3 linked regions of the Homo sapiens genome follow. The protein of the gene in region 2 interacts with the protein of the main gene of each other region in a biochemical or structural test. Each region holds a gene or a part of one and is shown on either strand. Other genes may lie near its edges.

Evidence for each region.
Region 1: the proteins of TRIM25 (region 2) and UBE2N form a complex in vitro, tested with the Homo sapiens proteins (3 studies listed by BioGRID, with this or other methods).
Region 3: of the proteins of TRIM25 (region 2) and ZC3HAV1, one has a biochemical effect on the other in vitro, tested with the Homo sapiens proteins (2 studies listed by BioGRID).

Annotation. Positions count from the first base shown.
Region 1 is NC_000012.12:93,414,245-93,417,995, forward strand, and holds part of UBE2N (ubiquitin-conjugating enzyme E2 N), read right to left. Parts: intron 1-3,751. UniProt on the Homo sapiens protein: The UBE2V1-UBE2N and UBE2V2-UBE2N heterodimers catalyze the synthesis of non-canonical 'Lys-63'-linked polyubiquitin chains. This type of polyubiquitination does not lead to protein degradation by the proteasome.
Region 2 is NC_000017.11:56,893,399-56,897,149, reverse strand, and holds part of TRIM25 (E3 ubiquitin/ISG15 ligase TRIM25), read left to right. Parts: intron 1-1,197; coding exon 1,198-1,224; intron 1,225-1,545; coding exon 1,546-1,629; intron 1,630-1,708; coding exon 1,709-1,807; intron 1,808-3,751.
Region 3 is NC_000007.14:139,075,038-139,078,788, forward strand, and holds part of ZC3HAV1 (zinc finger CCCH-type antiviral protein 1), read right to left. Parts: intron 3,617-3,751; coding exon 3,515-3,616; intron 1,373-3,514; coding exon 1,249-1,372; intron 1-1,248.

The sequences.
Region 1 (3,751 bases), on a different chromosome or scaffold from region 2:
TTCGAGACCAGCCTGATCAACATGGAGAAATCCCACCTCTACTAAAAATATAAAATTAGCTAGGCATGGTGGCGCATGCCTGTAATCCCAGCTACTTGGGAGGCTGAGGCAGGAGAATCGCTTGAACCCCGGAGGTGGAGGTTGCGGTGAGCCCCGATCATGCCATTGCTCTCCAGCCTAGGCAAAAGAGCGAAGCTCCGTCTCAAAAAAAAAAAAAAAAAAAAAAAGTCATAGTCCTTGTAATGGGCCCCCAAAAGACGCTCTATATGATGCCCTCACTCCACCTACCTCTCTGACTTATCTTCAGCTGTTCTCTCTCCATCCCCTAACCTTCTCTGTTCCAGACAAAAATTAGCTTCCTTGTAGTTCTTCAACGTGCCAGGCATCCGCTCACCTCAAGGGCTTTGTACTTCCTCTTCCTCCCCAAGATATCCATATGGCTTGCTCCCTCAGCTCCTAAGATCTTCATGTTTTCTCAGTGAAGCCATCATAACTGAAATTGCAAACCCCATTCAACCCTACCCTGCACACTCCCTATCCCCACTCCCTGGCTTTATCTCCACAGCACTACTAACAAATCTCATTTCTACTTATTTTGTTCAGAATTTAAGCTCCATGAGAGGATGGATTTGAGTCTATTTTATGGACTGCTATATCCTCAGCATTTGGAACACTGCCTGGCACAATAGATATTCAATTAATATTTACTGAATTCTGAATCTATTTGATGTTATGAAAAGAGGGAAATAAACGATCAGAATTTCATCGTTAACATCATTAAGGCAGGGTTATTTTCAAGGCAGGATGTGCACATTATGGAAGGAAAACAAAAGGAGCCACTCAGGTATGGGGAAAAATAGTCTAACTTCTACTTATATTTATTTTTAACCAGAAAAATGTTCATATTTAAATAAGCTTTTAGGTATGAAAAACAATAAATGAGAACATTTTATTTACACTGCCTTCACCTAAAAAAAAATACATCATAAACTGTTTCATTCCACAAGCTACAGGGCATACGTTAAAAACAACAACAACAAATAACTTCTCTCTCAGCACAGTAATATACTGAAATAGTCATAAGATGTAAATACAAATCAAATGCTTCCCCAAAATGTGTTAATTAAACCCATGGCCATTTTAGGTAATGTCTCTGGTATTTTAAGACTAGTTTTTTGTTTTGATCATGGCGATGTAAGAGCAAGTGAGAAACTGACATGTTCTTTAGGTTCAAACTAAAACATTTTTAGAGTATTAAAAAGCTCAAGAGGCAATAATGAAGCCTCTGACCTTGGGAAGTCCTTTAACATGTGACCAGAACAAAAGAGGCTGGTCTTCATTTTTTAGGAAAAAAGTTAAGATATTAGGGATGAATAGCAGGAGTAGAAAAATGAGAAAATAACTGGATGGTAAAATTCCTTGAATTCTGGGCTCTCCTCACCTCCATCCTTTAATTTTACCCCAGGTCTTCATGTTTTTAGAAAGCCATAAATTGGGTGACTGGAAAAAAAAGAAAGCCAGGGCCCAAGAGTCCCAATCCACCACTCACCAGTTACACAAAGTAGTAGCAGCTCTGTATCTACTATAAAAAGCTACAGAAAGGCCTCCAAAAGCGTATCCCAAAATAGCTTCAAAATCACTCTCAATACACAGTGGCAGAGATAGGTATGGCATTTACTTTCTCATCTTCAGTTCACCCTCAAAATCAGATATTCTTTGTAAAGAATGTACATATTAAGCACATCATGTGACCTGATCAAGCCTAGATTTAATTGGAACACATTCTAAAATAAGCTTTCGTGTGTAGAAAACATTTTGAAATAGTCCTTATAATATATGCTGCTCTCAAGTTCTAATGGACTGACACAAAAACATGCATAATTATTTCACTAAACTGTTGGTTTCCCTAACAAACCCACAGCATAAACTGTGGGAGGGGAAAAAAGGAATAAAATCCAAACTAAATGAAACAAGTCTGAAATGGCAGCATCTGAAAAAGTCTCAACCACAGAAACTGATGTCAACTTTTTTCCTAAAAAGGCAAAAACTGGCTAGGAAATAAAATCTTTCCGGCCACTATTCAACACATGACTAACTAAAATACCTTCTGGTTTTACACTATTCTTTGGTGGAAAGACAGAGTACAGTATGATTTCTTTAAGTGAAGAAGTAAAGGGCTAAAATTCCTACTGTTTCACTTATCTATCTTTTTTTTTTTTTTTGAGACAAGTCTCGCTCTCTTGCCCAGGCTGCAGTGCAGTGGCACGATCTTGGCTCACTGCAACCTCTGCCTCCTGGGTCCAAGTGAGCACCTGGCTAATTTTTGTATTTTTAGCAGAGACAGGGTTTCACCATGTTAGCCAGGCAGGTCTCGAACTCCTGACTTAAAGTGATCTGCCCGCCTCAGCCTCCCAAAGTGCTGGGATTGTAAGCGTGAGGCACCACGCCCGGCCTTATCTATCTTTTGGCACAAATAATTTACATTGCAGGTGGGATGCCATGGTTCACACCTGTAATCCCTGCACTTTGGGAGGCTGAGGCAGGCAGGGGAATCACTTGAGGCTAGGAGTTCCAGACCAAGCTGGGCAAGCATAGTGAGACCCCATCACTACCAAAAAAAAAAAAAAAAAAAAGTTGACAAATGAGATCACATAGGAAGGCCATAGTTGTTTACAGAAAAACAGAATAACCCTTAAATGAATTTTGTGATTCTATTATGTTTAAAAGCAGTCCAAGGATTGAATCCCAAACAGAAGTGAGTTTAGGGCCATGCATAATAGAAAGCACTGTAGACTATGTTCAGGAAATTAGTTAATGTAGACTATGTTCAGGAAGTTAGTTACTAAAATAGACAGGTAAGTTGGTAAAGGAATAGGGTATGGATTTAAATGTCCACAAAATTAAGTCTAAAGGAAGGTATCTCATCTTATAGAACGCATACAATAGTTAATGCTACAAATATTTTTAAAAGGAATCAAATATCACATCAAATTGATCTAATTATCAACAGATCTACTGGGTCTTGAAGAGCAAACCCTAGACTCACACTACTGTAAACTATACTGTAGTTAGTCAATTATAACAACTGACATTCTGTCAACCTATCTCTATTAACCAGGACTCTTATTTTTAAGTTGAAAAATAATTTGTGCTCAGTACGAAGCAATGACAGGTCTTAGATGCTCTTCTGCAAGGCAATGATTGGAGTATGTACAGTAAAATTTTGGGGTAATAAACAGTATTCTTAGAAAAAGTGCTAATTTGTGTGTGAGAAAAGTTGGTCCAGTTAGTAACTATCTATATCCCAGTGCATCCTGTCTACAGTGATTAGGTTTTTTAGAATATTCTCTGAAACACAAAATTGCAATATATGACCAGTAATATCAACTGTAGATCTTTTAGCTCATCTCAAACAAGAGCTGTCTGATAACTCAGTAACTGCCAATTTCATTACTGAAAAATAAGTGTTAAAAAACTGAGTGATGCTTCAATGATACCTACTCTGTAAACTCCAACCTGTCACTACATCTTTAAGCGATTCTAAAATATTAACAAACAGGGTTCTGGACAAAGTTGTGTGTTATAGAAAAAAAATTTAAATAAAGAAAAAAATTATGAAAAATTTGTAAGATAAAACAAACGGGCTCCTTTTTTGGGATCACTAATAAAGCAAGTCAATTCTTCATTATGTACACAACTGTAAGTTACTTATGAGAATCTGCAAGTTCACCCTCTATATATATAAGTGGGC
Region 2 (3,751 bases):
GCTTGGGGCCCAAGAATTTGCATTTACTATTTTTTAAGAGACAGAGTCTCGCTCTTTTGCCTAGGCTGGAGTGCAGTGGTGCGAACAGAACTCATTGCAGCCTCGAACTCCTGGGCTCAAGTGATCCTCCTACCTTAGCCTCTTGAGGAGTTAGGACTGTAGGCATGTGCCACTAAGCCAGGCTAATTAAAACAATTTTTTTTTTTTTGTAGAGACAGGATATTGATATGTTGTCCAGGCTGATCTTGAACTCCTGGCCTCAAGCAATCCTCCTACCTCAGCCTCCCAAATTGCTGGGATTACAGGAGTAAGCTACAGTGCCTGACCAATAATTTGCATTTCTTAGGGGTTCTCTGGTGATGTCACTGCAGCTGGCTTGGGCACCAGACTTTGAGAACGACTATTTTAGCCAAACTCAGTTCCTGTAGGTAGACACTCCAGATATTTTTAAAAGACTTGGCAAGCATTTTTTTTTTTTTTTGAGACAGGGTCTCATTTTGTTGCTGAGGCTGGAGTGCAGTGGCAAGAACACAGCTCACTGCAGCCTCATCCTCCTGGGCTCAAGCAATTCTTCTGCCTCACCTCCCAAGTAGCTGGGACTACAGGTGTGTGCCACTAGGCCTGGCTAGTTTTTTCTTTTTTTTTTTTTTTGTAATTTTGTAGAGATGGGGTTTCCCCATGTTGCCCATGCTAGTTTCTAACGCTTGAGATCAAGTGGTTCCTGCACCTTGGCCTCCCAAATTGCTGGGATTCCAGGCATGAGCCACCATGCGCCCAGCCCTTGGCAAGCATTTTTTTTTTTCTGATTCCCTATTTGGTTTTTGTGTTTTTTCCTTTATGGAAATATAATTTACCTGCAGTAAATCTCTTTTTTCCCTGCAGTAAATCTTAAATGTGCAGTTAGATCTATTTTGACAAATGCATACATGTGTTACCATTGTTCAAATCAAGATAAAGAATTTCCCTTTCTCCAGAAAATTCCTTCATGCTCCTTATTAGTCAGTCCCCGCCCCCACGACCGCTCATGCTGGTTTCTATCACTATAGATTCATTTTGCCTGCTGACTCCTTCTGTTTTTCAAATTAAAACATCCTTTTATTTGTCTGGGTCAAATTCATGCACATGAATGTTATTATTTTGAAAATGTCATTGTGTTGTGCCTTAAAAGAAATTAAATCTGAAAACTTTCTTTTGCAGAAGAGGAAAAGAAATCCAAGAAACCTCGTAAGTTATGCATTTCTGCAACTGTTCGTTTCTTGAGACTGCCCGAGCACAGAACTAAATGCTGGTAGTGAGAGTCGACCTCTCTCATCAGGGTTCTGTGATGGGTTCTATATGATTCCATTCTGTAATGGCAGCAGGCCTGAGGCTGGAGGGGAGGACAAGCATAAGTGAGATGAATAAGGTGACTTTAGCCTTGTCTGTTTTCCCCTGTGTTGTCCTGCTGTTCAGGCGTGTGTTTGTAGAAGTGGCTCTTAATCAGTGTGGAAGGGAGTAGAGGCCATCCCGTTGCTCTGTATCATATTTCCCTTTCCTTACCCCCAGCCCCTGTCCCTGCCTTACCCAGCAAGCTTCCCACGTTTGGAGCCCCGGAACAGTTAGTGGATTTAAAACAAGCTGGCTTGGAGGGTAAGTTATCATGGGCAAGGAGCTTTGGGGTGTCCACTCTGAGTTTGTTCTGCAAATCACTCTCTGTTTCCTCTCCCAGCTGCAGCCAAAGCCACCAGCTCACATCCGAACTCAACATCTCTCAAGGCCAAGGTGCTGGAGACCTTCCTGGCCAAGTCCAGACCTGAGCTCCTGGAGTGTGAGTAGCTTCGGGGCTGGTGCGCGGTTCCACTGGTTCTGTCTCTCCTGCGCCGCTCTGTGCAGCTCTCTGTGAGGCCAGCTGGCCGGCTATATCAGCCACTCCCCTTCACTTGTCCTCTACTTTGTTGCTCCCTTATTTTCTCCCAGTCATCAGTGCCTTTCTTTACTTTTCCTAACTAGCTCAGATTTCACAATCGGTCCTTTGACTCTCCCTCTTGCCGTCTAGTCTGGCCCAATTGAGCTCACCTTTCTCTGTGGGTCGGCGCCTGCATGTCCTCTGCAGAGAAGGCAGGGCGATTGCGGTCACCGGCCTTCACCGGGCGTCCCGTTGCCGGCATGCCTGCCCTGCATCTCCTGTCTCCTCCCCACCACTCTCCAGAGCCACCATTCCCAAGACTTCCCACTGGCCATAGCTCCATCCTTCTCCCTGTCCCGCCCACCTTCTGCTTCACGAAAAAGACAGACACTGTAGAAGGGGCTCCCCCTGCTCTGTTATTGACATCGCATCTGCATCTACTGTGCCCCCTTCCTCGCCTCCTGGCCCCTTTCCCAAGACCCCCTGGCCCTGGGCTCTGGAGTCTGCTCCCCACACGCTCTCTGGAATCTTCTGCTCTCTCTTAGGCCTTTCCATTCCCATCTCTTCACCCTCAGCATCTCTACCTAGGCTTGCCTATCTGTAGCACGTTTACATCTCTCCAAATCACAAAAACAAACCTAGCAAAACTGTCTCAGCTGCAGCTCTGTTTCCTGCCTCCCTTTCACCCGAATGCTTGTTAAAAATACAAATTACTAGCTGGGTGCGGTGGCTCATGCCTGTAATCCCAGCACTTTGGGAGCCCGAGGCAGGTGGATCACCTGAGGTCAGGAGTTCAAGACCAGCCTGGCCAACATGGCAAAACCCCATCTCTACTAAAAATACAAAAAATTAGCCGGGCGTGGTGGCACATGCCTATAATCCCAGCTACTTGGGAGGCTGAGGCACGAGAATCACTTGAACTTGGGAGGTGGAGGTTGCAGTGAGCCGAGATTGTGCCACTGCACTCCAGTCTGGGCAACAGAGCGAGACTCTGTCTTAAAAAACAAACAAACAAACAAAAAACCCCAAAAACCAAATTCCTGGGCCCTGTTCTAGCCCTACAAGATCAGACTCAGGCAAGCACGGAAAGCTGTATGTTTAGCTCATTTCCTCCATGATCCTTTTGAGGACAGTTGGGGAAAAGCAGCTCTGCAGATTTTCTACATTGGTGGCTCTCAACTGTGGCTGCGTGTTGGAATCCTGGGGAGCTTTTTAAAATCCCCGATGCCCAGGCTGTCCCCCAGACTGGTTCATTCAGAATGTTGGTGTTTGGCTGCCCAGGGTTGCAATGTGGGGCCGAGGTGGGAGCCTGAAGTCTAATCCTCGTGCCACTGCATTCTGACCTCTGTCCTGCCCTTGACCCAGGCAGCTCTGAGGTCATCAGGGTACTCCGTGTCACAAAATCCAGGGACGCCTTTCAGCTTTTATTTAGCTTCACCTGTCAGTGGCATTCCTCCTCCTTCTGACACTCTCTCCCCTTGCCGCTTGAGCTGCTATACCCCCCTGGGTTTCCATCCACCCCTCCTTTGCAAGCTCGTCCAACCTGGAAGTGGGTGGAGTTCCGTTGTCAAGGCCAGGCCTAGGGCCCTCCCACTTTCCGTCTTCTTGTTTCTTCTGCACCCACGTGCAACACTCCAGGCAGCACCTGCCAGTGGTACCCACTTCCATGTGGAGGCCAAAGCCAATCACTGAAAAATATAGCCCTTCCTTTATCATAAGCAGCTGCAGCAGGCTTGGTGGGGATCTGTGGGTCCCTTGCTTTTTCAGGGCTGGCCTTCTTGTAGCCCTCCGCTGTCCCTGCCCCCCAAGAGAGGCCCAGACCAGCCCTGGGCTGCAGCTAACTCTTGCCCAAGCTGCTAGCGGCGG
Region 3 (3,751 bases), on a different chromosome or scaffold from region 2:
TGAAGACATTTTGGGTTAGGACAACCAGTGGGGCTGGTGGGGGGGTGGTGCTTCCTGTCATCTGTGGATTGAGGCTAGGAATAGTGCTAAACAGAATCTGGCCCAAAACGTCAGTAGTGCTGAGGTTGAGAAACCCGGCTCTCCACTTGCCTGGGAGCGGAAATATAGACCTAGCAACCAGAAAGTAGCTCATGTCGCCCTCTAGTGGTAAAAATCCAGCAACACAGAATCTCCACCCTCAAATCACTAAATTCTCATATGATGAAAAGTAATGTAACTTTTCCCCCTTAAGAATTTCCTTATAAAACTGGGATGTTTCTTATATCCCTGCACACCATAGATAAATACGGTCATATGGGTATCACCCATTTCAGCTCTTCCAGAAGGAGAAATGTTTTTACTTATTTATTTTTGAGACAGGGTCTCACTCTGTCACCCAGGCTGGAGTGTGGTAGCACAATCACGGCTCATTGCAGCCTCAACTTCTTGGGCTCCAGTGATCCTCTCACATCAGCCTCCCGAGTAGCGAGTAGCTGGGACCACAGGTGCGTGCTACCATGCCTGGCTAGTTTTTGTATTGTTGGTAGAGACAGGGTTTCATCATGTTGCCCAGGCTGATCTCGAACTCCTGAGCTCAAGTGATCCTCCTGCCTCAGCCTCCCAAAGTGCTAGGATTACAAGCATGAGCAACCACGCTCGGCCAGAAGCAGAAATGTAAGGTACCCTCTTAGATGCCTTGCTAGAGAAAATAGCAAACATAAGGGAGGTATTAAATGCTAAAGTATACAACAAAATTCTACAGTAAAACTATATGAAATTATTCAAACCGTGTTTTTAAATTATGAAGTTAAGCCAAAGGCTCTTTTGTCCTAAATCATTTAGTACTTTTAATAGTTCTGTGATGAACTGATCAGGATACGAGCCGGACACTGAACTGTGTTTTTTTGCAGGACACAGACAACTGTCAACTAAACAAATAATCATGTCACTGTTTGTTTCATTTGAGTTAGCAAACATTCCCAGGATCTCTGGTATTAGCCAGGCTCAGTGTGACCTCAAACCCACCCAGCTGTGGTTTTCCTTCATTAACTCGGCAGGCATTTGCCATTTTTTATCTCAAGAGGTATTTCACACTCGAATGGGATTCTGATGGAAAAGTGTTTTTTTCTTTTTCCCCTGAGCCTAGCACTAATGCTTCCCTTTGATAATGTTGGACTCTTGAAAGCCAGAGTACAGCCACCAACTTACAGGTGGATTCCGGGGTTACAGTAGCCTTTCTCGATCGTCTCCATGTGCTCAAAGTCCGTCCAGGTTTTACCAATAAGCATCTGCCACCGGTAAGGCAGATGGAAGTGGACTTTGCTGCAGCTACCTACAAAGACAAAGAAGGGGTCTGAGGGACTGTTGAGCAGGGATTCTAACCAATTCAGTCAAGTTCACTGCCAGCTTTCCCCATCCATGCCTGCCCTGCCCCCTGCCAGACAGGTTCCATCTATACCAGCTGACACTGCTGTGTGTCCATTATCCAGGTTCCTTCATTACCTTGGAGACTCATCAGAAAACAAAAATTCAGGCAGAGTGTGGTGGCTCACATCTGTAATCCCACCACTCTGGGAGGCCGAAACAGGCGGATCATTTGAGGCCAGGAGTTCACAACCAGCCTAGCCAACATGGTGAAATCCTGTCTCTACTAAAAATACAAAAATTAGCCAGGCATGGTAGTGGGTGCCTGTAATCCCAGCTTCTCGGGAGACTGAGGCAGGAGAATCACTTGAATCTGGGAGGTGGAGGTTGCGGTGAGCCGAGATCACCCCACTGCACTCCAGCCTGGGTGACAGAGTGAAATTCTGTCTCAAAAAAAAAAAAGAAAAAGAAAAGGAAACAAAAATTCCCCACTGCCCCCAAAGTCACTCCACCCAGATAGAAATTCGAGGTAACCAGAAATTTAGTTACCCTTTCTGCACCCCCCCAAGTGTATGAAGCCAAAATGCTCTCCAGCAGAGGCAACAGCCTTTATTTCCTTGAAGCCCTGGCCTACAGTTCATCTCTTCCAGAAAGATTCTCTTAACGAATCTCACTCCATCCCCATCTGACTTGTATTTTTTGCATTCCTTTAGCCAGTACCCAATAGTCAGTTGGGGGTTAATTTTTTATATGTTTTTACTTACTTCACGCAGTTTTCCCATTTGCAAATTTTTTGTTTGTTTTTGTTTTTGTTTTGAGGCAGAATCTCACTCACTCTGTCGCCCAGGCTGGAGTGCAATGGCGCAGTCTTGGCTCACTGCAACCTCCACCTCCCGGGTTCAAGAAATTCTCCTGCCTCAGTCTCCCTAGTAGCTGGGATTACAGGCATGTGCCACCACGCCCAGCTAATTTTTGTATTTTTAGTAGAGATGGGTTGTCACCATGATGGCCAGACTGGTCTTGAACTCCTGGCCTCAAGTGATCCACCTGCCTCAGCCTCCCAAAGTTCTGGGATTACAGGCGTAAGCCACCATGCCTGGCATTTTATGGATGTTTTCATGCCCTACCTTAATTATAAACTTACTAAAGAGAAGGCTGCACTATGGTTTAGCTTACATCCCCCTTACATATTTGGCACAGGGCTAGGCATACAAAAGACAGCCATTGCAGGAATGCCGGCTGAAGAATGAATTGATGTTATAAGCTACAGTACAGGAAGACAGAAGATAGTTCTGTTTTTCAAAATTTGCCTTATATTATGTTTAAATTGTTTTGAAATATTCAAAATGAAGATGTGTGACAACTTCAAAACAAACAAAAAAGACAGGTTTAGACACTGCAGGGACACCCATAGAGTGGCCCTACTTGAGACTTGGCTGACTGAAAAGTACACAACCACTCATTATAGTCCACACCTCACACTTGTTAGAATGGCTGCTATCAAAGACAAACAGTGGCTGGGCACAGTGGCTCATGCCTGTAATCCCAGCACTTTGGAAGGCCGAGGCGGGTGGATCACTTGAGGTCAGGAGTTCAAGACCAGCCTGGCCAACATGCAAAAACTCCGTCTCTACTAAAAATACAAAAATTAGCCGGACGGGGTGGCACACGCCTGTAACCCCAGCTACCTGGGAGGCTGAGGCAGGAGAATCACTTGAACCCAGGGGGCAGAGGTTGCAGTGAGCTGAGATTACACCACTGCACTCCATCCTGGGTGACAGAGTGAGACTCCGTCTCAAAACAAACAAACAAAAAAGGCAAACAAACACACACAAAAAGAACAAGTGTTGGTGAGGATGTGGAGAAATTTGAACGCTTGTGCATTGCTGGTGGGAAAGAAAAATGGTATAGCCACTATGAATAATAGTTCCTCAAAAAAAAAAATTAAACATAGAAGTACTATATGATCCCCCAACTCCACTTCTGGGTATATATCCAAAAGAATTGAAAGCAGGGTTTTCAGAAGGCATTTGCACACCCATGTTCATAGCAGTGTTATTTACAATGGCCAAAAGGTGGAAGCTTACAGAAAAGTCCTTAGGTTACTCACCATTAAGCGGACAACCCTTACACAGATGGTCAAGACAAATTTCCTCTGAGTCATGATCATCCACCCTAGAAGATGTGGTACTTGTGACATCAGATAAAGAATCTATGAAACAAAAAAGGATGCATGTATGCTGATCTTAATGTTTAAACCAAAAATCAAAGCACTTGGTCTCACAATGGGAAAGAATATCTGAAATGGGGGCCATGTTCAAGAAAATTCCTATGATTTATGTTTTGC